Regions from separate parts of the Homo sapiens genome. Here regions 2 and 3 are each linked to region 1. Evidence: fine-mapped expression QTL. A gene starts in region 1. Each other region holds a variant in brackets. All regions are shown on one strand. Distances are between the middles of the regions. Region 1 holds the start of RCSD1 (RCSD domain containing 1). Region 2 holds the start of TRP-CGG1-1 (tRNA-Pro (anticodon CGG) 1-1). Region 3 has its middle 23 kb from the start of RCSD1.

What was found.
Region 2: its variant is fine-mapped to the expression of RCSD1 in whole blood (INTERVAL, PIP 0.91).
Region 3: its variant is fine-mapped to the expression of RCSD1 in lymphoblastoid cells (GEUVADIS, PIP 0.95).

The regions. Positions count from the first base shown.
Region 1 is chr1:167,626,169-167,635,784 of GRCh38, reverse strand. RCSD1 (RCSD domain containing 1) reads right to left here and starts at 5,553. Exons shown (of 7, transcript NM_052862.4): 1 at 5,356-5,553. The coding sequence starts at 5,361. RefSeq lists enhancers at 1-355, 4,767-4,836, 7,355-7,404, 7,415-7,584, 7,665-7,724 and 1 more and silencers at 5,377-5,596, 5,617-5,696.
Region 2 is chr1:167,706,905-167,716,895 of GRCh38, reverse strand. It overlaps RCSD1 (RCSD domain containing 1), which reads right to left. Exons shown (of 7, transcript NM_052862.4): 7 at 8,200-9,991. TRP-CGG1-1 (tRNA-Pro (anticodon CGG) 1-1) reads right to left here and starts at 2,171; the gene lies at 2,100-2,171. TRP-AGG2-1 (tRNA-Pro (anticodon AGG) 2-1) reads left to right here and starts at 1,337; the gene lies at 1,337-1,408. RefSeq lists silencers at 2,051-2,150, 2,451-2,690 and enhancers at 3,161-3,320, 2,815-3,653, 9,549-9,748. The variant C/T (reference allele first, on the strand shown) is at 5,061.
Region 3 is chr1:167,601,877-167,611,867 of GRCh38, reverse strand. No RefSeq gene overlaps it. Among named protein-coding and RNA genes, the nearest start is that of RCSD1, 23 kb to the left of the region's middle. The variant G/A (reference allele first, on the strand shown) is at 5,452.

The DNA.
Region 1 (9,616 bases):
CATATGGCAGAGGGCAGTTAAAGATTGTTTTATTTCACCCAGAGCTCTGAGATTTTTAGATTCTAATGAGTTGAATAGGGTTGGTCAGGCTGGCTCCACAGACTTAAATATTATTACTGGAGAAAAGCGGAGCTGCCTTCAGATTTCTCTGGAACCAAAATGCTTTCTCTTGCGGCCCTGATAAGATTACCGGGCTGCTGAGCCGCCAGTGTTCAGATTTCCCACGGAACCGCGCGCGCCAAGCTCTGGCTCGCAGTGCTGTGAGGAGCCACGCTGCGGATCAGGCTCTGAAACCCGACTCCTTTCCAGGAATGCACATTCACCCCCTCCTGTGATAGGGCCTGGGCTGGGCCCTTAGAGTCTCACTCCCCAAATTCCCCCTGTCGTCGCAGTCCAACAAATGGAAGATGTCTGCTGAGTGGGGGCCAGTGTGAGGGTGAGGGTCCCACAGAACACGCGGGAGCCAGAGAGGAATGTGGGGTATTTGGGCATGCCACAAGTCCACCGAGCCAAACTCTAGCTTCAGAGGCTGTGCAATTCCTAATTACGGCCCATCAGCTCCAACCAGCAGCCAACATATGGCTCAGTGAGAGGGTGGGTGGGTCAAAAAACAGCGAGGCTGTGGGTGTTTCTCCTAGTGTTTCACGGTGAAATATCAAAATAATCTTTTTAAGATTTGGATTCGTTACATGTTTCTCTTCTATCTCCTAGTCCCATAATTTTAAAAAATGTGGTAGAAAATGTTTACTGAAGTAAAAAGATATGGATGAAAAAGTAGGTCACAAAACAAACACATTATATACACCAATATGTACACACACACACACACACACACACACACACTCTCATCATAGTAATACTGACAGTCTGTGAGAATGTAAAGACATGAGAGCTCCATAATTTTTAAGTAACATTTAAAATACAAGATCTGGTATGTAATAAGGGCCCAATAAATACTGAGTAGGTCCATGAATGACAAATAATATCTGGGAATGATTTGCAGTTACCCCAGAGAAAAGGATTCATTTATTGTCTCCACCTAAGTTAGAAATTTATGACTTTTTTTCAGTGCCATGATGTGCCTACAATTTAGTTGAACAAACAAAGGATTTAGTCAGCGAAAATTATACTTTTTTTCAAGTGCCCTCAGGCTATTGGCAGTGCACACAATTTATATTTAAGTGACTAACAGTATTAACTTAAATGTGACATCATACGCCTCCAGCTCCTTCTTTACACACCTCTGTCCTCTGGGTTCCTATCCACAATAGCATTACCTATTATCTCTTCTAGAGGAGAATCACATTTGTATCATAACAGGTTTGTATTTCTTAGGGAGTGGTGGACATTCTGCTTAGAACAATCAAAACCAACATATCTAAACACTGCTTGTTAAAAAAAAAAACCCTGATCTTCCTTCCCTCTTCAATATTTGCTCATGCAACAAGCCTTTCTTGGTGCCCATTAGGCTCTAAATATATAAGACATGGCCCCTGCCCTCAAGGAGCCTTCCGGGGTGACAGTTAGGGAGGCTGACAGTTCCAGTTCTGCCTAGTGTTCTAATAGTGGCTTGAACAAAGTGCTCTGAGAGTGCTGTAGAGTCTGGGGGCTTCACAGAAGCCTTCCAGAGGTGGAGACGTTTGAGCTACAGACCGAGAGGGGAAGGAGTTCCCTATTTATGCTAATCATTTATCAAGCAAACTTTTATTGAGAAATTATATGACTATATGCCAGGCACCGTGCTCATTCTGGAGACTCAAAGACCAATGAGAAAATCTGCCTGCAAAAGGCTTTGTATGGAGCTGTAAAAGTTGGTACTGCCATTTTCCCTGGCACCATAGAGAACTTCACTCTTCTGGGCAGCTTGGTGATTTCTGACTTCCCTTCCAGCGCATGGTCTTTACTCTTTTCCATCTTCTCCATTCTTATTGTATCCTGAAGTCAGAATATACCTGTACTGGAAAAGATGCTTTCTCACCTGGTTCCCTTGCTCACTCCATGAAGTGGCATTTTTGCTGTATCATCCCGGCTACATCACTGCTGCCAGCTGCCTCAACACCTCTCAGAGTTTCCTACTGTCCATGGAGCAGAATCCAGGGCCATACAACTCTGGCCTTCAAGAGTTGCAGATGGCCTCTGCATGAATTAGAAAAAGCCACCCGTTTGAGGCTCAACTAGGCAAGGAGATTTTGTATGAACAAAAAGTAACCTTTTCCTCCAAGTGACTTGGATTTCAGCTCCCACTCACCCACTTAGCTGGGCATCTACTATACTCAGTGACCTTGGATTTATCTTATTACTTTCATTTTTTTCTGTTACTGCTTTCCTACCTTCCTTCCCAGCCAGCTGGACAAAGCTGGCATGTTCTCCCTGTGCCCATCCCTTATACCTTCTCCACCTTACCCACATCTTTCTTCCAAGGCTTCTTCTGAACCTAATCTAGTCTGAACTCCTGCAGAACTCATGATCTGCAGCAGTATTCAACTGGCATTTATGCATTTGAAGATTATATATGTGACAGGATATAGTCCCTTTATTGGGTTGTGAGCTTTTAAAAGGCAGGGATCAGATGGCATCTATACTTTGTTTATTCCACAGGGCTTTATGAGGGATGAAGATTGATGTTGTTGATAATGGTAACAGTGACTTTAAAAAAAGATCTCTCAAAGACTTCCAATAATACGTGAGCTTTAGAGAATGAATATTGAGTAACCCTCTTTGGTCTGGTTTGGATTCCTAGTACTGAGAAGTAATATAACTTAATTTCTTTCCAGATACAGTAGCCCTTTCATGTCCCAAAACTGAGTTTCACCTCTCAAAAGAGGGTTTTACTCTGAGATTTTCAGAAACCCCCAAATCCAACTCCTGCATATCATGCTTCACCATGAAAAGTTTACTTCCTGGCTAAGAATGGTCACTTCCCTGGCCCCTAGATTTCCTCTTTACTTTCTTCACTAGCAGTTGCATGTTGTTTTTTTGTTTGTTTGTTTCATTTTTGTTGTTTTTTGTTTTCCAGGCATTTGGACAAAGAAACTTCAAAAGCAGCCACTGTCCAACCAGCAAATTGATGGACTAGGCTTAGTGACCTACTGGATGTGAGACGCAGGGTGATTTGTCAGGCTTCTGGCTGGCTGAGCTATTCCCTCCCTGCGTCCCTCCCAAACCCTAGCACGGGAGTGATTTTGGTATCTTGGTGGAATCCTGCATAAGTTACTACACATCTCAATAAGGGAGGGCCTTCTCTTTTACTGCAATCCCCTCCACCCCCCAAGCCACACAGGAAGTTGCTCAGCTGATAGTTTCAGGGCCTCTGCCATACACTATTCCTTCCTCATCTGAGGGGGGAGAAACTGCCTCTGTGGAAGGAGACCCTCCTTGTTTTCCTAGAACAAAGTTGACACTTGCATTTGGCCCTCCAGCAGCAACCTGCTTGAAGTCTAAGAGTTGCTTTTCTCTTATCTCCAATCCTTTTCTTCAAGAGGTTAGACAGGCCATACATCATAGTGAATCTGCAGCCTGGGGCCTAAGGCAGTTTGTACACTTCCAGAAGAGGGAAGCCACTTCTAAAACAATTTCTTAAGGAGACTTCACCCAACCCAAGAAGCTGGGTGTTGCCTGGGCCATTTCCCTCCTCTGCCCTGAAGCAGTGGCCAGCTCAGAGAGAACCCTGTTGTTTTGTGTTTGTGTGATCTTTGGGTGGATGTGTGCACACCACCTGCTGAGCTTCGCTGTGTGCGTGCCTCACCGCCAGCCCTAATCTGCCAGAGCTTCCTGGCCTTGCAAATGTTTCTGTGGAGGGTCCATATTAGACTCCAGTGGTTCTTGCAGTCTATAAAGTCTCCTTGAAGGTGATTCCCTGTTCCTTGAAGACAACTGGCTGGGCTGGATGCCTGAATATAGCTCCCTGACTTCTCTAAAGGACAAACTTATTGCCCCTTTAGAGAAGTCATGAAGCTTTGCCGGCAAGCACAGAGTCTAGCTTAGAAAACACAACCAGGGCCAGGAGTGGTGTGGCTCATGCCTGCAAATCCAGCACTTTGGGAGGCCAAGGCTTAGAGGATCACTTGAGCCCAGGAGTTCAAGACCAGCATGGGTAATATAGTGAGAACTTGTCTCTACAAAAAATTTTAAAACTAGCCAGGCATGGTGGTACACACTGGTAGTCCCAGCCACTTGGGAGGCTGAGGTGGGAGGATCCTTTGAGCCTGGGAGGCAGAGGTTGCAGTGAGCTGAGATTGTGCCACTGCACTCCAGCCTGGGTAACAGAATGAGACCCTGTCTCAAAAGAAAAAAATAAAAAGACCACCAGGGCCCAGGCACAGAGCCTGGAGCGGGGAAGAGATAGCGGAGTTAACTGTGAATCCTGATTGCACTGACCACAGTCTAGTGAGCAACACATGTTTCCTTTTGAATATGAGTGGGAATCACCTTTAAAACTATATAACATTTGCATCTTCTCAAAAGCCCCAGGTCCTACTAAGATTGACTTAGGGCTACATATCAGGTCTCATTTTCAAGGAGGAAACACAGGGAAGCCTCAAGATGTGCAGAAGAGAGGGATGTGGGGAATACACCCAACCACTCCTCTGCTGAGGTTGGAACAGAACAAGGAAAGTCCCCGGACCTCCTCTCAGCAGGCAGAGAAGTGCGGGGCCTCCCTCTGGCAAAGCCTGCAGATGTGGCCAGCATACCTCCATACACACAGCTTCAGAGGCAAGGGTGTCCAAGGGAGTCTTAAGTTTTATCAGAAATAATGTCATTCGACTGACCAGTAAGGGGAGCTTTCAGAAAGTTATGGAAGAAGATGCGACAGACACAGGAAGGACTTCAGAAGCAAGAAGACAACTGGACTCTCTAAAATGCCACTCCGAAAGCGAAAAGGGAAGCCCACAGACCCACGAAGACGTGCTGGCCTCGTGTTGCCAGTTCTGTTTCTCTTTCAATACCCATCTCTTCAGATTGAAGGGCTTCTGCCTTCTTGCAGTTTTTGCTGACACGTTTACCCATTTACAAACCTTGGCTGCACCTAACTTTTTTTTTTTTTTTTTTTTTTTTTTTTTTTTAGCATTTAAGTTCCTAGCCAAAATACCCGGGCCTCTAGGAAAGCCCTTTTCTCTCCCTCTGAGATCTTTCCTTACCAACCCCAGCCTCCCAACCCGGGTGTCCTAGGTGGGACCAGGGACGATCCTTCGGAGTTGGTCAAGGAGGCGTCGGAACAGCAGGCATTTGCCCTTCTAGTTGGCAGCAGCGATGAGCCGCGTGCTCCATGCTCAGGGCAGGGGCAGCCGCCCGGGGAAGGGGCGCCCGATACACCGCTCACCGCTCAGCCCCGCGTCTCCCTCCGGGGTCCTTTACCTCCATGTCCTTCAGGTGCCGACTCTGCGGCAGACGCACCCGCTCGCCCGGGCCGGAGCTCACGATCCCCGCTGTCCCCTCCGCTCCCGGCCGTGGCCAGTTTCGGGCTGCGGCGGGCACAGGGCGAGTGGGCGGTGGCGCGCGCCCGGCTGCGCTCGGCTGCGGGACTGCCCCGGCCGCGGGGGCCCTGCGCGAGAGAACGAGGAAGGAGGAGGAGGGAGGGAGGGAGGAAGGGGAGGGGAGGGGAGGGTGGGGAGCGGGGAGGGAGGCCGACGATCAGGGTTTAAATTTAGACGCAAATCTAAACAGATACTGTCCCTCCCAGGGCAGGACTCAAGAGCGGGAGCCACGACTCCATGTGCCCAAACATGGGGATGGGCAGCCACCGGGCCCCTCTGTCTCGCGAAGTTTCTCAGGACCCTGGGCTTTGCCACGGTCTCAGTCCTTCTCAACGTCTCCCTCCCTTAATGCGCCTTCTTTCTTTTTCCTGTCCCTTCAAGAATTAGAGTGGTCCTTTAATTCTTTTTGTTTCCTCTCTTTTCGATTTCCTTCTTTTGTGTCCATCCTTCCTGCTTTCCTTCTTCCTCTCCCTCTTTTTAAAATTGCATTACTGTCATACCTGGTTTCCCTGCAGTTCTTGGGTGGAGTTCGAGGACCCTCCCTGGTGGAAGGCGTTTGTGTTCTACCAAAAGAGGAGCCCTTCTGACCGAGGCTTCAGAGCTCAGCGTGGCGCCGACGGGACCACCTTTCCCTTCTCACCTCTTTTCCTCTCCACCTTCCAGGAAACCACTATCTATCCATCTATCCATCTATCTTCTGTATACGAGTAGAAGGAGGAGGAGGAGGAGGAAAATCAGGAATCCACGCAAAGTTTTCCAAGCTCCCTGAAGTGGTAAATCTTTTCTTCAAACCTTGCTTTGACTGATGCATTCGGTTTTGTGGGAATTTTGGCTCCCACAAGCTGCTTGCTAAAGGGCCTCGTCTCCATTCCTGTTAAATATAGCAAAGGGCAAGATGCTCAACATCTGATTCCCATAGGGCCCAGCATAGCAACCTTCCTTTAGGGCCATCCCGGCTGGGCAGCAGAGACCGCATGGGAGGGATTCGGGGACTGGAATCTGCACCAGGGTCACTCCCTGCTACCCGGATCCCGGCCCCCTTCAGACCCTTCGGCAGAGAGAAACAGGAAAATGCCTTGAGAGACCTGTGAGTGCCAGGGTATTGGCTGGGTATATGACGCCTCTGGGTTATCCCACAGCATTCTCACCCGCCCAACCCCAGCTCAACCAGGGGAGGGGAGCCCCATCAGAGGTGGGCAATGGGACAGGTGATGGTGAGCACTGTGAAGAGACATGTGGAGAAACAGTAGAGAAAAAAGGCTGAGAGTCTGCTCCTGCTACAAAGACTACCCTGATTCTGGTTATCCCGGCACCATCTTTGCACTTTCAGGCACTTAGATTGCTGCTTTGGGTACCAGTCTTAGAAATATGGCCTCCTTCCTGTCCTAGAACTTTCTAAGGCCCAACTTTCTAAAACACTGGCAGCCCTAATGCCAGAGTGGCTTCTAGTTCTTTAGCTTAGCTAAGCATAGAGGAAGACGCCTGGTTTTAGGAACAGACAGATTGAGGGCTGAATTCCAGCTCTGCTACTTTCTAGTTGTATTTTTTAGACAAGTCACTTAACTGCTCTGATTCTCATTTTCCTCACCTATACAATGTAGTAGGCACTCTGCAAAAAGTGGCTGTTTTTATCATGCTTAGCCCCATGTACAAGCTTCAGATGAATAAGAGCCTGATATTTCTTTTATTTAGAGACAGGCACTCGGGGACCCAGTGAAAAGAGCCCTCACTCCCAGGAATTAATAGTGAGGCCCCTCCCAGTCCAGCCACATGGCTGCTCAGGTGAAGACTCGAGAGCAGAGTCGGCAGTAAGGAAGGGTATTTACTGGTAACCTGCAAGGCACACTTTTGCTCGTGCTTCTTTCCTTTCTTTTTAAAGGTGCAGGACGTAGTGATGACTGCATAGTCTACTATCAGGTCTTCTAACTCTGCTCCACAGGGCCTTTTCCTTTCTCCCTCTACCTAGTCCTCCTTTGTGCTCAGAATGGGGCTGCCCCAGCACAGGTTTCTGGCTTCACAAACAGGAGGGCGGAAGTGCTTACCCAGAGGAAACCGTTAGGCCTAGATAACATCAGTCACCCAAGGTGACTTGCAGCTGCTCCCCACGCCCTGCTTAGGCCTCTCTTGGCTGAGAACAGATGACCACAAAGCAAACAAGCTTGGCCTCCACCATGCTCCTGGGTCCCCAGTGCAGAGTTTAATGCTGCTCCAGAGCTATTTGGGCCCCAGACTGGGACTTCTCCTGAGGGAGGGGGTGGAAAACGGGGAGGGAGGGACCAAGAGGTAGCCCCGAGCTGTGTTTAGGCAGCCATGAGTAGGTGTGGTGTGTGTACTCCCCTTATCTTCTTCTTCTGTCCCTACAGAAGATCTCCAGGAGCCAGAATAGCAGTAACTCTGCTGATAAACACCCAGGTTTGCTGGGTTATCTGGGATTGTAACTGGCTGCTCTGGGGGCTGGGAGGAAACAACAGCCCAAGGGGAAGGGAAAGTGACTTTCCGAGGAGTTGGTTCCCCTCTCTCTCTGGAGGTCTGGCTGGCTAACACGGAACCACTTCCTTCAGTCTACCCTGGGCCTTCCCCTTCATATATCCTGATAGCCAGAACCAGCCACGCAATAAGTAGAGGTCATCAGGTAACTAACAATAAAAACACCAGGCTGGGCTCATGCCTGTAATCCCAGAACTTTGGGAGGTGAGGCAGGTGGATCACAAGGTCAGGAGTTAGGGACCAGCCTGGCCAACATAGTGAAACCCCATCTCTACTAAAAAAATACAAAAATTAGCTGGGCATGGTGGCGTGTGCCTGTAATCTCAGCTACGCGGGAGGCTGAGGCAGAAGAATTGCTTGAACCTGGGGGGCAGAGGTTGCAGTGAGCCAAATTCTTGCCACTGCACTCCAGCCTGGGTGACAGAGCCAAGACTCCGACAAAAAAAAAAAAAAAGGCCAGGTGCAGTAGCTCACGCCTATAATCCCAGCACTTTGGGAGGCCGAGGCAGGCGGATCACGAGGTCAGGAGTTTGAGACCAGCCTGGCCAACATGGCAAAACCCCGTCTCTACTAAAAATACAAAAATTAGCTGGGCGTGGTGGCATGTGCCTGTAATCCCAGCTACTTAGGAGGCTCAGGCAAGTGAATTGCTTGAACCCACAAGGCAGAGGTTGCAGTGAGCCGAGATCGTGCAGCTGCACTCCAGCCTGGGCAACAGAGTGAGACTCCATCTAAAAAAAAAAAAAAAAACAAAAAATAAAAAAACAAGAACACCAGAGATACAGCTCAGCCAAGGGAGGGGCGTATGGGGAGGTATGGGGAGGAGCCAGGCATATAGAAGGCCCTCAATAAATATTTAGTGAATGAGGCCAGGTGGTAGCTCACACCTGTAATCCCAGTGCTTTGGGAGGTGGAGGATGGTTTGAGCCCAGGAGTTCAAGGCTGCAGTGAGCACTCTATCCTTGGCAACAGAACAAGACCTTGTCTCTAAAAAAATAAAGTAAAATAAAAATAATTTGGCGAATATGTGCGTGAATGAATGAACAAGTGAAGCAAATTAGGATCTTTCCCTTTAAGTCAGAGACAGAGTCTTTCAGAGATGGGTCTCCCATGGAAATAAGGACCCAGTGGGAGAAAAGATCATGAAAGGCCACAATAAGTAGTAACTTAATTAGCTTTCAAGCAGAATTGCAAAGAGGTCTAATCAATCAGCTGTTTATAGTGGACACACTGTACTGCTGATCATCTATTTTAAAAATGAAGAGCAAGAAGCAAATATTCTTTTACGACTACAAATACTACCTACTATGGTATAGGTAAATGCATATATAGGTAAAAATTACCTCATATGGTATTACATGAAATATCATCTATATAATATAGTTATATTAATATAATATATAAATATATACAATATAAATATATAAAATAATATAAACATAATATATATAACATTTTACATAATACCATTCATTCCTAAATTCTGGGAATCTGGCAAAACAAAATATAATGAAACACACACACACACACACACAAATCCCAATTCATTTTGCCGTAACTGTCATTGAGGAATAAATTTGAATTACATTGAAATGAAAGCACAAAGTCTGAAGTGTTTTTATGTCTTTAAGAACCTGCAATGGAAAGTTTCCCAA
Region 2 (9,991 bases), 81 kb before region 1:
TGGCAGGCCGAGGCAGGTGGATCACGAGGTCAGGAGATCGAGACCATCTTAGCTAACACGGTGAAACCCCGACTCTATTAAAATACAAAAAAAATTAGCCAGGCGTGGTGGCGGGCGCCTGTAGTCCCAGCTACTGGGGTGGCTGAGGCAGGAGAATGGCATGAACCCAGGAGGCGGAGCTTGCAGTGAGCCGAGATCGCGCCACTGCACTCCAGCCTGGGTGACAGAGCTAGACTCTGTCTCAAAAAAAAAAAAAAAAAAAAAAAAAAAAAAAAAAGAAATTAGGCCGGGCGCAGTGGCTCACGCTTGTACTTTGGGAGGCCGAGGAGGGTGGATCAACTGAGGTCAGGAGTTGGAGACCAGCCTGGCCAACATGGTGAAACCCGCCTCTACTAAAAATACAAAAATTAGCTGGGCATGGTGGCAGGTGCCTGTAATCCCAGCTACTCGGGAGGCGGAGAATCGCTTGAACCTGGAGGGCGGAGGGGGCGGAGGTTGCAGTGAGCCGAGATCACACCACTTCTCTCCAGCCTGGCGAAAGAGCGAAGCGAGACAACGTCTCAAAAAAAAAAAAAAAAAAAGAAAGAAAGGAAAAAGAATTTAAAATATAGTTAAGAAGCCATGCTTACTATATCTAATTAAAGATATTGGGACAATCGAACAGCAATCACACAATTGGTTGCCAATTCTACAGTAGAATTTCGTGTTGGTGTAGGTGTCTTGCGCTCTAAGAAGTTACAGTTGGAGGAGATAAGACTGAAACCCAGTTATTTACCACATACTATTGGTTTTGATATGTTAAAGGATCTTTTTCTGGGAAGGTTAGAGTTTGGGATTTGTCCAAAAGCAAACAGGTTTTCCAGCTGAAGAGAACACTTCGAGTAAAAACAGAGATGGGAATTCACAAGGCTAGATAGGTAGGGCTTTGAATATTACAATAAAAAATATCGGCAAGAAACCGAGATTTTAACATTATAGAAAAGTGCGAAAAAGAACGAATGAAACATCCAGAACTCACTCAGTAACGGAGAGAGTCTGGAATCTGCCACAGTGACATTGTCCCACACTAATAGCCATTTATTAGCCATGAATAGAAATACAATTACAATTTTCGAAATAAGAGGTCGATATTATACTGATAGTGACAATTTTGCTGTCTTCTGTGTTACTGATTTTCAAAGAGCAAAACAGAAAAGAAAGAAAATTGAAAACGCGGTATCTATAGAAAGCAAACACAACCCAAAGATCGAATCCTAACATGCGAGCAACCACTTGAGGGCGCAGGACTAAATAGCTATGTGTTCCTTTCTGATGACAGTAAGGTGGAGTTTGTGTCGGCTCGTTGGTCTAGGGGTATGATTCTCGCTTAGGGTGCGAGAGGTCCCGGGTTCAAATCCCGGACGAGCCCTGTTTTGGAGTAAGAATCACTTAAAGGTGAGTTTTTTTGGGGATAGATTACTAAACGTAATAAATACAGGTTGGTCAGAGTAAAACACAAAATTGAGATTTTTGGAAACTTAGAGCACACTCTACATTGAAATACCATTAAAAGGCCTCATTTTGAAAATGTAAAAAGTTTGCTAGTAATGTAGTATTGTACTATGAAAACATTGTCCCTAGCTGTCTATTCCTGGGTGCAGCGCGTGTACAGGGCCATCGGGAGCTCAGTTCTTGGCTGCCTATGGCGTGGTTTAAACTCATCCACGACAGTGCCCCTCATCGGGGGTGGGGATATCTCCTGAGCGCCCCTTTCCTCGGAAATGCTGATTCCCGAACCCCGGGACATGCTAATCCATGACGCCCCCTGCTCGTTTGGAGGAGTTAAAGGCGTGCACAGGATTCCGCACTAGGCGTCTGTTTTTCAAGAGTGTGTGTTTTACATGGTACAAAGCAATTTGAATGCGTTGCCTTTGGGCGTACAGTAACCATATGTTGTATTAATTGAGCTCACATGGTCCCTCGCTTCAAAAAACAAAGGGGATCAACATTCGAGCTCATGGGACCAGTATGTTTTCATTTAAGTTTCTGAATGGAATATGTGGGGAATTAGGGGGAAAAAATCTGTTTTTAAATTTCGGGTGTGGGGTGGGTAAAAGCCTGGGCTCGTCCGGGATTTGAACCCGGGACCTCTCGCACCCGAAGCGAGAATCATACCCCTAGACCAACGAGCCGCTCTCGGCAAGGGCACTCCCAGAGCTTCCCTTCAGCCTTGTTCCGCCTCTCACCTCGTGTTCCGAGCAACCACGACCTGCGACCCTTATACTGCGTGTCCTCTGATTCCCTAAGCCTCGGGTCCGGAGCGCTTACTGCCCCACAGCGTGGAGGAGCAGGGAGGGACCGGCTTTTGCCTGGTCCGGCCGTTCCAACCCCCCATCGCCGGCGTGGCCTCCACGTTCGCACGCGCTCCCGGAAGCCGCCTTCCGGCTTACGGGCTCGCCCCGGCTGTTCCACTCGCAGTGTTGGCGGGCGCCCGGGAGCCCGGGCTGAGGAAAGTGCGGGGCGGGGCAGGGCGCCTCAGGACGCAGCCCGGTGCCAAGTCCCGGCGGCGCCCCGCCCGCGCCCAGCCCGTCAGTGCACGCAGAGCTGGGCCTGCTCGCTCCGCGAGTGGGTCGGTGAATGAAGACGGGGAGTCCGAGCGAGGGAAGGGAATACCCGAATCCTGGCTAAGAAAGGGGTGGTGGGAGACGAAATCCCATAGGAGTGAATATTAAGTTAACTCCCCGAACCTTCATTTGGGGATAGTGCACTCTTTTAAGCCCTTTGCTTGTATTGAACTCACCTGATATTCGTAATAATCCCCTAGGTGCCATTGTATCTCCATTTGCAGATGAGGAAACTGAGGCTCAGAGATGTTAAGTCGCTCACATAAATCCACTGGGCTAGGAGCTGGCGGTGGCGCTGGTCTAGGAACTCCCGAGGTCCTGGAGGGTGGGACAACTGGGGGCTGGGGCGTGTGAAAGGGACTGGAGAGTTGGGGAGAAGATTGGTACCTCGGTAGCTTGGAGAAGAGAGGGCAGTGGCAGTGGGCCGGGTCTTCTCCCTCCCGTCCAGCAGAAAATGTGGGCCTGCCCTACTGCTCTTCTGCTCAGAGGAGCGGGAGTCCGAGTGCGGGGTCTCCCGCCGGTGTGGTTTCCCGGCCTGGGGTCTAGCTCGTCTTGCCTGCTTTCCGGACTGCTCTCACCGCTTCCCCCCACTTCACGACCCCAGCCCGCCACTCTGCACTCCGGCTCCTTGCAGTCTGTGGCCAAGTTGCAGACGTCCCTTATTTCTAAAACACTCTTGCATTCTTAGGCTACTTTCAGTTCAGCGTAAGAGAAATCCATTGCTCTGTAGCCTGGTCAGACGTTCTTCCAGGTCCTGGTGGTGCTTTTGCCCTGTCACCTGCTAACCGAGAGCTTCCCACGTGCACCCGCTTCTCTGCTCTTTTCTCTCTCTCTTCCTCTCTTCCTTTTAATGTCAGTGAGCTTTTGGGACGACACTTAGCGATAGGAGGTCAGGACCAGGGTTCATGCCGGTGGGGAGTGTAACGGGAAATGCAGTGAAGACACCTCAGAACAAACAGCGAGCACTGAAAAACCTTTCTTTAGCCCACTCTGGCGATGTAGAGAGCCCTGTCGCTGGCTGGTGCAGGGGCCAGGTCTAAGGTGGGCAGCCCTGTCTACGCCTTCTATTTGTTTGGAAGTGCGTAAAACTATTGACACCCTGTCCTTGTCTGAGACCACTTTTCTTCCTCCTACTTACCTAAGGTGTGAGAACTGGATATTGTTTAATTTCTTTTCTTTTCTTTTTTATTTTGAGACGAAGTGTCGCTCTTGTTGCCCAGGCTGGAGTGCAATGGCGCGATCTCGGCTCACCGCAACCTCTGCCTCCCAGGTTGAAGTGATTCTTCTGCCTCAGCCTCCCGAGTAGCTGGGATTACAGGCATGCACCACCACGCCTGGCTAATTTTGTATTTTTAGTAGAGACGGGTTTCTCCATGTTGGTCAGGCTGGTCTCGAACTCCCGATCTCAGGTGATCCGCCTTTCTCGGCCTCCCAAAGTGTTGGGTTGAGCCACCGCGCCCGGCTAGATATTGCTTTTAACACACTGTTTGGTAGTTTGAGGATGGGTCAAGGGTGGGGAAGGTTGGGGAGAGAGTTTTCATTAGGGCAAGTCCTGAGCAGCTAAGCGTCGCCCTCCTTCCCTTTGAGAGTATGCGTGCCTTCGCTGGGGCTCTCTCTGCCTTGCCTGAGCTGTATCCCACTCCTGGGAGCTTTGACATATTCCTGCCACTCACCATGTGTGTGGAACATGATAGAGGTGGACACTTCTATCTTTGCTGAGTATACACTCTCAAGGGTTTTTTGTTTGTTTTTGTTCGTTGTTGTTTTAATTTCCCAAGCCTGGGGAGAGGGATAAAAAATAAAAATAAGTTCCCAAGTCTGCTTTTCCACTCCGTTAAGTAGTTTGTAATGGCTTCATAGTATCCCATCAAGATAATGGCACATCCTTTTCTTAATTATTCTTCCACTGTATAAGTAAGTGGTGTCAAACATTTTGTTGAAATTTTGTGTATATACTTTTTTTTTTTTTTTTTTTTGAGACAGGGTCTCACTCTGTCACTCAGGCTGGAGTGCAGTGGTGCCATCATGGCTCACTGCAGCCTCAACCTCCTGGGCTCAAGTGATCCTCCTACCTCAGCCTCCCAGGTAGCTGGGACAGGCATGTGCCACCTACACCCAGCTAGTTCACCCACACCTGGCTAATATTTTTGTATTTTTTTGTAGAGATGGAGTTTCACTATGTTGCCCAGGCTGGTCTCCCAACTCCTGGGCTCAAGTGATCTGTCCACTTCGGCCTCCAAAGTGCTGGGATTACAGGCGTGAGCCATTGCACCCTGCCCCTTTCCATGTACTTTGGATTATTTCCTTAGGACACACTCCCAGAGTTGGCCTGGTCACAGAGACAAACACTGATCCTTGGCCACTTTTATAACTCTTGATGCAATTCTGTGCTAAGGAGCTTGGCTTGGCTGGTTAACAAGTAAGATGGAAACGTGGAAGAAGAGGAACAGTGGCTCT[C/T]AGATAACTTTAAAGCCCATGATTTGATCTTTTAATTTCATTTAAGGGTTTTGATGGCATCAAAGCTTTTGAGAATGCTGATAATAAGTATTGTTGATGATAACAATTTTGACTTGGGGTCAGATGCATAAAAGGGAGTAAAAGAAATTAGAAAACTAGTAAATCCATTAGGAGATGATTAGAATAACTCTGGGATGACATTATTGAAACTGTGAATGGGCATTTAAATCACTTGTAATGGGGATTCAGTGACTATTTAATAACTAAGATTTGCTGGCTACTGAATTCTTACCCAATTTAGGCTTAGGTGGTGCAGACTTGGCTCTGTCTAGCAAGATCAGTCCTTAGGAATAAGAATACAATTAATTACATGGGTTCACCACTCCAAGGAACCTTCTCGCTAACTTGGCACACAAGACTGGCCTCATGCTCATATGCTGAGCCTTGTTTGCTGCTTGTGGGGTTATGTACTAATGGACTAGAAGGCCATGGCAGTTGTCTTGGTAGGCTTGTGTCACGCACAGCAAGCCTTCCTCCAATTTAAACAGAAACTTGGATCTGACTGAAAATTTGTGTCTTTTTCCAGATTCTAGTCCAATATCCAGCAAAAGCTTCAGCTACATTTTACTAAACATATTTCTATTTGGTTTCCCTCAGTGATCCTTTTTATGAGGTTTAGATCATGTGTCCCTCTGAATTTTGCAGTCCCTTCATTGAATCACTATTAATGAATTCTTGGAATTGCCTCAGCCTCTTCATTTTTCATTCAAAAGGTTTTGCTTGTTTTTAAGTTCTGAGAGTACATGAGGTCAGAGGGGTAATATGAATCTCAGATGTAGATTGTGAAAGAACTGCTCTCCGCTGGGACACCTTCACTTTCACCAAGGAGTCTTATTACCTGTTCATCTTATTACCCTCTGTTTTATACAGACCTAGTTCTGGTCAGATGTTTCTGGTTAACACAAAAGTGTATCATTTTCATGATCAAACTTGTGATTCTTTATGAAGACATGCTCATGAGAGTATGTTACAAAAAAGAAAGAGAAAATTAGATATAGTAAAATCCCAATTTTGCACCAACCAAGAATTAAAACAAAACGTATATAATGCACTAAAAAAAAAGAAGAATATCCATAAAATAGTAACATTAGTTATCCCTAGATAGTGGACTTAAAAATACTTTTTTGTTTGCTTCTTAAAATTTTTTCTTCCCCTCCACCAATTTTCTAAAATAAAGATGCATTGCTTTTACAATGAGAAAAAAATTAGGATAATTAACGTTTTTAAGCCACAAAGAAAACAGGGGTCTTGAAACTGCATTTCTTTGTTCTTGGTAGAATGGAGACACAGAATTAGAAGCAATGTAAAACAGGCCCTTTTGTGCTTCTCCATCCCTTCTGCTTCCAGAGGTGGTCAATAAGCCTGTTTGTATCACTCCTGAGAGGCCAGGTGCAACTGTGATGGGGATGTGCCTGGCACCGTCTAGCATGTGTGGCTTCCTTAGATAGTCAAACAGCAGTGACTAGTATTGGAGGTCCTATTGTTTGAAGAGGCTATTATTTTCTTGGGGGGGAATGAGTATCTGTGTCTTGGCAATATCCATCCTTTGAGTACCAATCATATAATTATTCTAGAATTTTGTTTCTGCATGCTGGTTAAAGTGCAATTCAGTCCACTCATTCTTTAAAACAGAAGCACCTGGTAAGTGTGGTAACTGACTTAGGGGTTTACCCAAGTTAGAGTAACTTTCTCTAATTTCTTTCTTTTCTTTTTTTTTTTTTTTAGAGACACAGTCTCACTCTGTCGCCCAGGCTGGAGTGCAATGGCACAATCTCGGCTCACTGCAACCTCCGCCTCCTAGGTTCAAGCGATTCTCCTGCCTCAGCCCCCGGAGTAGCTGGGATTACAGGTGTGCGGCACCCTGCTCAGCTAATTTTTGTATTTTTAGTAGAGACGGGGTTTCACCGTGTTGGCCAGGCTGGTCTCGAACTCCTGACCTCAGGTGATCCACCCACCTTGGCCTCCCAAAGTGCTGGGATTACAGGTGTGAGCCACTGCACCTGGCCACTTTCTTAAATTTCTATGTAAAACTACATCATGAAGGACTAGAGTCATATTACTTGCAGGAGTACTTGGGGGCGGGAATCCTAGCCTTTTTTTTTTTTTTTTTTTTATTGAGACCGAGTCTCACTCTGTCACCCAGGCTGGAGTACAGTGGCGTGATCTCAGCTCACTGCTGCCTCCACCTCCCGGGTTCAAGCGATTCTCCTGCCTCAGCCTCCCCAGTAGCTGGGATTACAGGCACACCAACAGACTCAGCTAATTTTTGTATTTGTAATAGAGACGGGACTTCACCATCTTGGCTGGTCTTGAACTCCTAGCCTCAAGCTATCCACCTGCTTTGGCCTCCCAAAGTGCTAGGATTACAGGCATGAGCCACCGCGCCTGCCCAGAATCCTAGCCTTTTCTGACCTCTTCCTTCGGCATCCTGCTTCCCTCATAGTGTCTTCCTGGCTGCTCCAGGCGGAGGGTGTTCAGCTCCCATGGAGAAGCCCCACAGCTTTTCAGGATTAGGGGGATGTGTAAGACATCTCTTAGTTCCTGTTTTGGATGTGGGTGGTTTTACTGTTGGCTTCCTTTACCCTCTGAGGCATGTAATACATTCATCATCTCTTCCTCCTCTGAGGAGTCTCAAAGAACCAGTTTCCTGCCCCATTTGACCACAGTGGGACTTTGCTGGAATTCCCACAGCTCTCCTGGGATTTGCGGGCAAAACTGGAATAATGGTCTCTTGTCAGCATCCATAGCCACTGTGATCAGGACATCCAGCACAGGGCTCATGGGGAGCCTGGGTTACCCCAACAAAACTGGGAAGGCAGAAAAGTGTGTCTCCTGACCCTAGAATTTTGTGCACTTTGCTCCTCTTTTGTAACCCCCTCTGGGAAGGGTCTCAAGAAACTTCTCACACCAAGGTGTAAATGACAAAGGAGGCTCCAAATAATGATCTCTCTCAGAAGTATTTGCATATTGAAGGAAGCCAATGATGACATTTCAGGTGTCTGCTGTCAGATAAAAGAGGTGTTAAGCAGGGATGACTGTTGAAAATAATCCCATCTCAGCTCTGAAATCAATTCAGTCATTCATGATTTAACAAATATTTATTGAATACCTACTATGTCTGAGGCACTGTGTACAATGAAGAATAATACAAACACATTGTACTCCCCTAGAGCTACAGGTTAGCTCTGGGCACAGTAATACATTATTACATAAAATAATGAGACTGATTTTCTTGGGTGGCTTATGAAACCTAATCCCATTTTATGTGAGCATTTGGATTTTGTTCAGTGCTCTTGACATCTTCATAAACCACCTGATCATGCATTATATAGAGACATTGTTTATCCTTTTTTCACGTGGTCCATCGAGCAAAAACTTGACTAGAACTAGTTGGGGTCAAACAAAATTTAATTTTGAAGCAAACAATGGGATAGTAATTGGGTGTTTCAGGTTTTGCCCTATGGGAAACAGCTGTTGTTTTTTGCCTGCCAGCATAGCTTCTTTTGGTAACAGCACCCTGATTTCACTTTGGGGAATCTTCTTGCTCACCTTTGCAAGCCTTGTAGAGAAAGTGCAGGATTGACTCACCTAGCTCCTAGCTCCAGGAGAGGGCACGCAGTCTCTGCATCTGCTTGGTTGTAACAGTTGATTCAGGTATAGACACGTGAGTCACACAGGGCCTATGGAAAGCCTCTACAGGACTTTTTCCCCACAGTAATGGTGAAAGAATAAGCCCTTTCACTGGGTTTGCAGGCTGGGAAGAACCTACTTAAGAAAATGACTGGCTGGACGTGGTGGTTCATGCCTGTAATCCCACTTTGGGAGACCGAGGCAGGCAGATCACTAGAGGCCAGGAGTTTGAGACCAGCCTGGCCAACATAGTGAAACCTGGTCTCTACTAAAAAATACAAAAATTAGCTGGGCATGGTGGTGCATACTTGTAATCCGAGCTATTAGGTTGGTGCAAAAGTAACTGCAGTACTTGGGAGGCTGAGGCACGAGAATCGCTTGAATGCAGGAGGCAGAGGTTGCAGTGAACTGTGATTGTGCCACTGCACTCCAGCCTGAGTGACAGCGCGAGACTCTGTCTCATTCAAAAAAAAAGAAGAGAAAAGAAGAGAAAAAAGAGACAGCCTTGGCTGCAACTATTAAGGAAAACTAATTAAATAAGTTTTTAAAAAAGAAAAAAAAAAGAATATGGCCAATACGAGGGAAAGCAGAGACCAATACCATGAGAGATTCCTGACATCACTTGGGTGACTGTATTTAGGTTTGTTTTTTTCAGTTCTATGAGGCTGAAAAAGGGGGAGAGATTCATTGATCTGTATAGTTCTGTTTTTCATCAGCTAGTTTGAGTTGGGTTTCTGTCACCAGCAGCTGGGTGAACTTGTTCATTCAGCTGTACTAAACACATCCCTAATCAAGAAAACCTAATCATAAGATGATGAACTGGTTGCCTTTTCACGCATTTATTTCTTTGACATTTATTTATTGAACATGTAGTTAACTGGTCATAGGACAAAACCTGCATGAAAAACTGGGCATTGTTCAGGGTGATCTCCGTGAGGGGCCTGGAGTTCTGAGGCCACTGAAGCTTACCTAGTTCCACATGCAGCTGAAACAGAATCCTAATCCCCTTTTAAATAGTGGCAGATCCCTTCAAAGCATCCAGGTTTTTTTTCTTGCTCCCTCTCTGGAGTAAGGAAGGACACAGTTTGAAATTCAAGCTAGACTACAAAGATCGTGGAAGAATGACTATGACTATTTCTTTAACTCTGTTGCTGTAGAAGAATCCGTGTTTTCTTTCAAACCCATTATGGAAGCCTGAAAGAAACAAGGTCTTCCTGGCCTGTTAATAACTTTGTGCTACC
Region 3 (9,991 bases), 24 kb after region 1:
CTTTCAGTTTACAGGAAACATGGCAGATGGCCCATGTACATCCCATGAGGATTTAATCAGCAAAAACTAGAATGTGGGAAATTTCTATAGATCAAATGAACTGGTTTCTTTAACAAATAAACAACATTTTAAAAAAAGAAAGAGGGAGAAAGAATTGTTATATATTTAAAGAGACTTAAGAGAAGTATCAGCAAAATGCAATGTGTGTACCTTCATTGGGTCCTGATTCAAACACACCAATAATTTTGAGACAATTGGGAAAATTTGAACACAGATGGTATTAGATGATGTCAAGAAATCCATGTTACTTTTCCTAGGTGTGAATGTGATATAGTGATTGTGTTAAAAATAAAAGATTTTATCTGCCAGAGATACATACTGAAGTACCATGGCTAAAGTTACATGAGGTGTGAGATTTTCTTTAAAATCTTCCAGGGGTGAAAAATCGTTAAAGAGATAGATGAGGCAGAATTGGGAATGCATTGATAGTTGTTGAAACTGGGTGCACGCATGTGGGAATTCATAGCACTATTCTCTCTGGACTTGTATACCCTCATAAATTTCCAAAATAACAACAAAAATAATAACAACAACAAGAACAAAAACAGTGAGTAGACTCAGGGTGATCGGATACCCAGGATAGGCTCTTGGTGATGGAGAGAGAAAGGTCACTGAAAACTTTGAGATCAGTAAATACATCTTTATCTACTTTAAAGGTTTGCTTAAGGGCAGCATTCTTCATATGGCTGTTGGAAAAGTTTAGTTTATTCATTTCCTGAAAAATTTGTGACTCTGCTCCATGAACCAGGAATTTCAAACTTAGGCATGCTCCCAAGAGAAATAGGTAGATATACCTATCAAAAGACACATACAAGCCTATCATATTGGTACAAATCAGTTTTATCCATGATAGTACAAAACTACGAACAATCCAAATGTCCAAGAACAGATCAACAAATTGTGGAATATTAATGCAATAAAATATTACCACACTCGGCAATAAAAAGAAACAAAATACTGACACACGTGACAGAGGTGAATTTCAAAAACATAATGCTGAGCAGAAGACAGACACAGAAGAGTATGTGCTATGACGCTCAAGAATAGGCACAACTAATTCAGGGTGATAGATGTTAGAATAATAGCTACCCCTGAGCTGGGATATTGACTGGGAAGGTGCATGAGGGACCCTTCTGAGGTGATGGAAATGTTTTACATCTTGGTCCAGGTGCTGGTGTATACAAATGCAAGAACTCATTAAGCAGGACATTTAAGATCAGTGCCCTTGTGCACTCTATGCTATTTGTATTATAACTCAAAAATAGTAATCATAATGAATAAACAATAAAAAAGGAAAAGAAAAAAAACCTGGAAATGTTTTGAATTTCCAAAAGAAATCTAATGGTAGAAAAATTTAAGACAATATTTTTAGGGTCTAAAGAAAATTGAGTTCCTGACTCAGAAAGCTAAAGTCTTATGCTAGGAAAATGTTGTCTGGAATGTTCTATAATCCAGGGGTCAGGGAAAGGGTTCCAGTTCTATTCCAGACTTCTATCCTGCCTTTTCCCTTTTGCAAAATGCATCAGCCCTGTTTAGTCAGCTCTTTGCCCCAGTAGCAATGAAAGAATCCAGTCTTTTTTTATATTTTGTTTTTTTTTCTGAAAACATTCATGAGAAAATCCTAATAATCACCAGTTCAACACATTAAGCCAAAGGAAGTTGTCATGTACAGAATAATGAGCATGCAGCCTGCAAAGAAGAAATGGTTTGTTTCCCAGGACCTCTTCCTGGGGTACAAGGTCTGAGGCAGAAGGGGATATGGGGTAGGATGAGGTGGGGTAGGGTGGTGGAGTTCAGTAAATGGTACTAGGCTGGTCTTCCTACTAAAAGACTTGGGTTCTAAATATAGCTATTTCTTGAATGTGTTTGGGGGCAAATCATGCCAACTTCTCTTGTCATCAGTTCTTCCTATAAAAATTCAGGGTGATGAAATTGCAGGGATATCGTGAGGATTAAATCAGATCATGTGCACACAGTCGCACAATCAACAGAGACTTAAATAGAAAAGAAGTAGGAGGAACCAACATTTTCCAGTTTTTTCTTTTCATCTTTGTACTAGTTCCTTTTCTTTTCCTCTTACCTCCTGGTGCCTCAAAGGACCTCAGGCCCTCCTGCTATGGTCAATACCGCACTCTGGCACCTCACCTCAAGTACTCCACTACAAACCTGAGATAGAGTCTTAGATGTAGCCAGTGCTCTTAGCCTGGGGCAGAGATGCGACAGCAGTGAGAGCTAAGGTGCTGAGGAGGTGTCACTGAGGACTGAGCACTGGGGTTAATAACGAAGACCCAAGTCAGATTTTTCAAGGCTGTGAAGCTATCAGGAGCAAACTGGAGGATACACAAAGGGGTGCACTGTACAGAGGGAAAAGCAAAGTCCATTGTGGCGGGGATGACAGAGAGGAACAGGGGCTGGAATTGGACATGCAAAGGAATTTGGACTTTGTCAGTAGGAGAAAGGGCAACATCTTAAGAGCTGTTTTGCAGGGGTCAGATTTACATTTTAGGAAGATGATTCCGACAGCAGAAGGAATCAGAGGCAATTTTGCAGACAGGAAAACAAGTCAGGAGAGTTGAAGACCTAAGCTGGAGAGGAAAAAAGAGGGTTGAAAGACACTACAAGTTTGATTTTCCAGGGATTAAGTACATATTAGGATGTGGGAGTAAGTAGGAGGAGCCGAGATTAACTTAAACTTTCAGAGTAAGGCTGTCAGGTTTATCAAATAAAAATACAAGCCATCCGGTTAAATTTGAACATCAAACTATTGATAAGTAATTTTTAGTATAAATATCTCCCATGTGTATTAGTCTGTTCTCACATTGCTATAAAGAAATAACTGAGACTGAGTAATTTATAAGGAAAAGAGGTTTAATTGGCTCACAGTTCTGCAGGCTGTATAGGAAGCATAATGACATCTGCTTCTGGGGAGTCCTTGGGGAGCTTTTACTTATGGTGGAAAGCAAAACAGGAGCAGGTGTCTTACATGGCAGGAACAGGACTGACAGACAGGAGGAGGTGCCATGGACTTTTAAACAACCAGATTTTGTGAGAACTCCATCACTCTCATGACAATAGCACTGAGGGGATAGTGCTAAATCATTCGTGAGAACTCTGCCCTCATGATCCAATCACCTCCCATCAGGCCCCACCTCCAACACTGGGAATTACAATTTAACATAAGATTTGGGTGGGGATCCAAACCATATCATTCCACCCTTGGCCCCTCCAAATTTCATGTCCTTCTCATGTTGCAAAAGTACAATCGTGACATCCCAATAATCCCCCAAATCTTAACTCATTTTGGCATTAACTCAAAAGTCCAGAGCCTGTAAAATCAAAATCAAGTTAGTTACTCCCAAGATACAATGGAGGCATAGGGATTGGGTAAAAACCCCCTTTCCAAAAGGGAGAAATCAGCCAAAAGGAAGGGACTACAGGCCCCATGCAAGTCTGAAACCCAACAGGACAGTCTAAATCTTACAGCTCCAAAACAATCTCCTTTGCTTCCATGTCTCACATCCAGGGCACACTAGTATGAGGGGTAGGCTCCCAAAGCCTTGAGCAGCTCCACCCAGTGGCTTTCCAGGATTCAGCCCCCTCAAGAGCTGGCATTGAGTGTCTGCAGCTTTTCCAGGTGCAGGGTGCAAGCTGTTGGTGGATCTACAATTTTGGGATCTGGAAGATGGTAACCCCCTTCTCATAGCTCCTTTAGGCAGTGCTCCAGGGGGGACTCTGTATGGAAGTTCCAACCCCACATTTCCTCTTTGGACTTCCCTAGTAAAGGTTCTTCATGAGGGCCCCACACTTCTGTAGCACACTTCTGCTTGGACGTCCAGGCTTTTCATTCTCTGAAATTTAGGTGGAGGCTCCCAAGCTTCAACTCTTGCACTCTGCACATTAGCCGGCTTAACACAATGTGTAAGCTGCCAAGGTTCATGGTTTGTACCCTCTGAAGCAGTGTCCTGAGTTGTACCTGGGCCTCTTTGGGCCACAACTGGAGCCAGAGTGGCTTAGGATGCAGGGAGGAGTGTCCCCAGGCTGCAAAGGGCAGGGGGGCCCTAGGCCTGGCCCATGAAACTACTCTTCCCTCCTAGGCCTCCAGGCCTCTGATGAGAGGAGTGCCACAAAGGTTCAGCCTTTTCCCCATTATCTTGGCTATCAGCACTTGCTTTCCTTTTAGTTATGCAAATTTCTGTAGTTGGCTTGAGTTGCTCCCCTGAAAATGGGCTTTTCTTTTCTCCCACATGGCCAGCCTTCAAATTTTCCAAGCTTTTATGCTCTGCTTCCCTTTTAAATATAAGTTACAGTTTCAGATCATTTCTTTGCTCATCATATGAGCATAGGTTACTAGAAGCAGCCAGGTCACATCTTGAATGCTTTACTGCTTAGAAATTTCTTTCACCAGGTACCCTAAAATCATCATTCTCAAGTTCAAAGTTCCACAGATACTTAGGGCAGGGGCATAATGCCTATGAGTTCTTTGCTAATGCATGACAAAAGTGACCTTTGCTCCAGTTCCCAGTAAGTTCCCCATCTCCATCTGAGACCTCCTCAGCCTGGCCTTCATTGTTCATATCACCATCAGCGTTTTGGTCACAATTCAAGCAGTCTCTAGGAAGTTCCAAATTTTCCCCCATCTTCCAATCTTCTGAGCCCTCCATACTCCTCCAACCTCTGCCTGCTACCCAATTCCAAAGTCACTTCCATTTTCAGGTATTCTTATAGCAATGCCCTACTTCTCAGTACCAATTTTCTGTATTAGTTCATTCTGGTATTGCTGTAAATAAATACCTGAGACTGGGTCATTTATAAGGAAAAGAGGTTTAATTTGCTCACAGTTCCACAGGCTGTCCAGGAAGCATAACAGCATCTGCTTCTGGGGACGCCTCAGGGAGCTTTTACTCATGGCAAAAGGCAAAGCCAGAGCAGACATCTTACATGGCAGGAACAGGACCAAGGGCAGTGGCTGGTGCCAAACACATGTAAGCAACAAGATCTTGTGAGAACTCAATCACTAGCATGAGGACAGCACCAAGTGGATGGCGCTAAACCATTCATGAAAACCCTGACCCCATGATCCAATCACCTCCTATCAGGCCCCACTTTCTTTCTTTCTTTTTTTTTTTTTGAGACGGAGTCTTGCTCTGTCACCCAGGCTGGAGTGCAGTGTCGATCTCGGCTCACTGCAAGCTCCACCTCCTGGGTTCACACCATTCTCCTGCCTCAGCCTCCCAAGTAGCTGGGACTACAGGCACCTGCCACCATGCCTGGCTAATTTTTTTTTTTTTTTTTTTTTGTATCTTTAGTAGAGACAGGGTTTCACCGTGTTGGCCAGGATGGTCTCGATCTCCTGACCTTGCCTCAGCCTTCCAAAGTGCTGGGATTACAGGC[G/A]TGAGCCACCGCGCCCGGCCAGGCCCCACTTTCAACACTGGGGATTACAATTCAACATGAGATTTGAGTGGGGACAGATTCAAACCATATCACCATGCAATAATCAATCTGAAGTTCAAATTGAATTGGGTATTCTGTATTTTATCTGGCAACTCTATTTCAGAATCACCTCTCTAAAATGCAAATCTGATCTGTTTAATCTATTGCTATCTTAATGTGACTTCACAGGTAAATAATCTTCCTCAAAAGAGACTGTATTTATCAGCTGGAAGGAGTATTTGGGTCAATTGAAAAATCATATTTCTCATTTTTGACCAGAGAATCAGCATAGTGAAGAGCATTTTCCCAGCACCATTTTTTTTTTGGTGTCATGGGCCATCCATACCATGACTTTTTTCAGTAAGTTTGAGATCTATATTAAATTAATTTACTTTTTAAATTTTGCATTACACTAAGTAATGATATCCATGAAATCACCACTCCAATGAGCTACTGATTTTTTATACCTATTACAATAAACACAGGGCTACAATAAATTTTTATTCCTATGTTATCTAAAACTTGCACGTACACTCTGGGAAATACCAATAGAGGAAGGAGAGCTGTGCTGGCGCTGGTCTGATCTGACTCATACTCTACCATCCCGGAGCCTCAATCACTGTCTGGTTGGAGAGGAGAAGGCCCTGGTGTGCTGGCAAACCCTGAACTTGACTGGATTAGATTAGGATGAGAGGGACAGGACAGTCAGGCTTCTGATAAGGATGGAAAAGTGGGAATTGGAGTTCAGCCTCCAGGAATCCTGCAGGCCCCCTGGTAGTGGAGCCATATATGTATTTGGGGTCCCACTACCAGAGAGGAGATACATGGGGACCGGTGAGGGCCAAGAACGTGGCCAGAGGTTGTGGTTGAGGAGTTTAGGACCCCAGATGAAAAACTCCTGTCTCCAGGGGCTGAAAGCAGATACTTAAGAATTCTTCTTGTGGGATTTGGACACAGACTGTGATCTACCTGCCTGCACAATGTCTCATTGTTCCTGACTTGTTAAGAAAGCTTCTCCTGATACTTGGTAGCAGTTCAGGTTGATGTCAGCCCCTGGGCTGTCCAGCAGAAAGATTTTCCCAGGTTTCTCAGTGGAGACTGGAGCCACCAGAACTGTGACACCCTGAACTTGAACCAACCAGCCAGTCTTGTCAGGTACCTCTGACCCGAAAGGTCATGCCAAGAGCCCAGAGGCTCTGATCATGATCTCAGCACTTCATCCACATAAAGGAGCCCACTGTTGTGTTTCCCAAATGCTGCAAGGCTCTTTTGCTCCGGGTTTCACTGATCCGCCCCTCCTTTTAAAAAGACTCTTGGATTCTGCCAACATTACTCTAGGCCTCCACTCTCTGCTCACCAAAGCCTAAGCCCTGTGGCCTTAGGGCCGATAAGTCCTTGGATACATTTCCCAGTGTGTTTTTCCTTGGTGGGCCGGTGAGACAAGAGACGATGGGGGTCTTTACTGTACTCATGTGACACATGGCTGTTCTGCATGCGGCAAGGCAGAGGGGCTGGGAAGGAGGGAGAGTATGAAGTGTCTGTTTTGTGCCAAGCATTGAGCTAAGCCAATTGTCACAATAATCCTGGAGGCAGATACCATCATCTTCAGTTTATAGATGAGGAAAGCTAAGCTCAGAGAGATTAAATAACTGTGAACGGCAGAAAAAACCGAGCCGGAATTAGACTTCAGATCTTCTGACCTTAAGTCTGGTGCTCTTTGAGTCATGCCACCTGAAATCAATTTGAGAGAAAGGGCAATTGTTGGCTCAATTTTGATGAAATAAGAATTTGAGGGGACACCCTCTGTGTGCCTAAGGATGAGGCCCAACACAGGGAACAGAATTCAGGAGACTCTGCAAGGGCAGAACATACTGGTAACATGTCCTGCAGGCTTTAACTCCTATTCTTTTTTCATGATTGTTCCACAGTCTTCTTTCCTAAGGACTATTATCAGATCCATATACCCATGTTAGTTAGAGTAAATGTTAGGCTTCTGTAACAAATAAACCCAAAATATAATGGCTTAAACTTAAGTTTATCTCTCTCACATAAAATTCCAGGTGAGTGGTTCAGAGCTGGTACACCACAAAATGTCTTGCTCAGCTCCTATCATCACATCTTGCATCCCTACCATCAAGATGGAGGAGAACATGCAACTTCTTTTTAAGAGTCTGGCCTTGAGGATTGCACATATCACCTCTACTTATATCTCATGTTGTCCCAAACAATGACATGAACAATTGTAGCTGCAAGGGAAGTTGGGAAATAGAGTCTTTATCTGAGTTTCCATGTACACAGTAAAAAAACTTCTGTTGCTATAGAAAAGAGAAAAAAATTGGGGAGAACATAGAGGAGCCACTACTATAATAATTTTGGAACACTCTTACATGAATTGATAGGCCATTTATGTTTTCTTTAAGAAGTCTGGGCCAGGCGTGGTGGCTCATACCTGTAATCCCAGCACTTTGGGAGGCCAAGGCAGGCGGATCACCTGAGGTCAGGAGTTCAAGACCAGCCTGGCCAACATGGTGAAACCTTGTCTCTACTAAAACTACAAAAATTAGCCGGGCATGATGGCAGGTGCCTGTAATCCCAGCTACTTGGGAGGCTGAGATGGGAGAATTGCTTGAACCCGGGAGGCGGAGCTTGCAGTGAGCTGAGATTGTACCACTGCACTAAAGCCTGGGCGACAGAGCGAGACTTCATCTCAAAAAAAAAAAAAAAAAAAAAAAAGTCTGGATTATGTGGCTTAGAGCCACAACTCTGCTACTTAGATGTGATCTTGGCAAGTTGTGTAACTTCTCTGAATCTCAGATTTTTCCTCTGTACAATGAAGTGATGAAATTAGCCTACCTACCAAGCTCGGATATTGGAAGGCCCAAATAAACTCATGTCTTTGAATGCTGCATGTAAGCTGCAAGGTCCCATGAAAAGTGAAGTGCTACAGCATTGGGCCACCCAGAGGGGGGTTTTTGTTTTTGTTTGTGTGTTTGTTAAGCATTTGGTGCTGGTTCCTCAGCTTGGTTTAGGGTGAAAACCACATATCCAAGTCTTCTGTATGGTATTTCCACTCTCAAGGGAATACTTTAGCACATCCTATTCACTTCTACTGGTTAGCCTGCCTCTCTCCCCAGAGCCCTGCCACTCTTGTGGGCTCCCATCCTTCCCTTGGGTGCAAGTCACTGCCAACCCACCCCGACTGGCCACTTCTGATCCCTAATCACAAGTGGGTAATAAAGGCCCCGAAACTTACTCCTCCCGGAGTGGATTTGGGTGGAGGGCCCCGAAACAGGCCCTGCAGGAAGGAGCCCAGGAAACGGCCCCCGGCAATGCTAATCTGAGCGTTTTTCCCCAAGCATATGCAACAAACCTCAAAAGGCCACCTCGGCATGCTTTCACACCCCTAGTTGAGATTGTATGACAGTCAGCAGTGTGTGTTAGTTACAGCAGGACCAGTTGTTATCTATTAGCCTCTAAGCTCCTTAAGGAAAGAAGGAAATAAACCTTTTCTCAGCATCTATTATGCCTTAGGCTCATAAACAATGTGCCAGCATTTATTCCTCACCCAACCTCACTGCCAGGAGGAATTATGACCTCCTTCTTGGTAGATGAGGAGTAAGAGGTTGAAAGAGTACCTTGTTCAGTACCAGACAGTCATCAAGTGAAGGTGGCAAGATTTGAATCCAGGATCTGATGCCAAGTCTGGCTCCCTCCTATGACACCGTGATTAATCTGTACTGTAGTTGAGTGTGAAAAGGTGGAAACTATGTGTTCAGCCATTGTACCTTCCCTTGAGCACTAACACGATTTCATGCCAGCAGGGCCTCAAAAGGATTAAAGAGAATGGCATTTTTCACCATTTTATCTCTGACAGTGCACAGCACAGTTCCTGATACGTGAAACAGGTCATTATGATATTTATTGGACATACCGAAATTGTTGGACTGATATTTTTTAAAAAATCATAGCTGTATTTATTCATTCCAAGAGCTGAAGGTGAAAGTGCCTTGCAAAGCCTTCCTGGGAGTAAGGTTGTCAGGCAGATAAAACAAGCTAGTGAAATCAGGGAAAAGATTTCCTGGACACAACTGTTCATGCCAGGCTTCCTGGCGGAACCACAGCAGGAGTTAACCAAGGGTCTACTGTGGTTATTGCCTGAGCCACACTCACAGCCATGAATCTGTGGCAAAAGCAGATGGCACTTCCGGCAGACATCCCCCAGAGGAGAGAATTTTCCATGAGGCCTGTGTATGGCAGCCAGCCATCCTGGGTTTCCTGGCATGGTCCAATTTCCCATCTTTTGTCTCAAAGTCCTTAGAAGGACATATGTATGGGGTGGGTAAAGTCCTGCTCTTAGTTATTTAATTTATTTATTTTTACAGGCAGCCTCTCAAACCAGAGTAGGCTCAGAGAGACTCCTGAGTCCTGCTTTTGAATTTGGAAAATATGGTTATAGCAGGCACGTGGAAAGTGCCTTTTATTGCCTCCCACCTGCAGATCA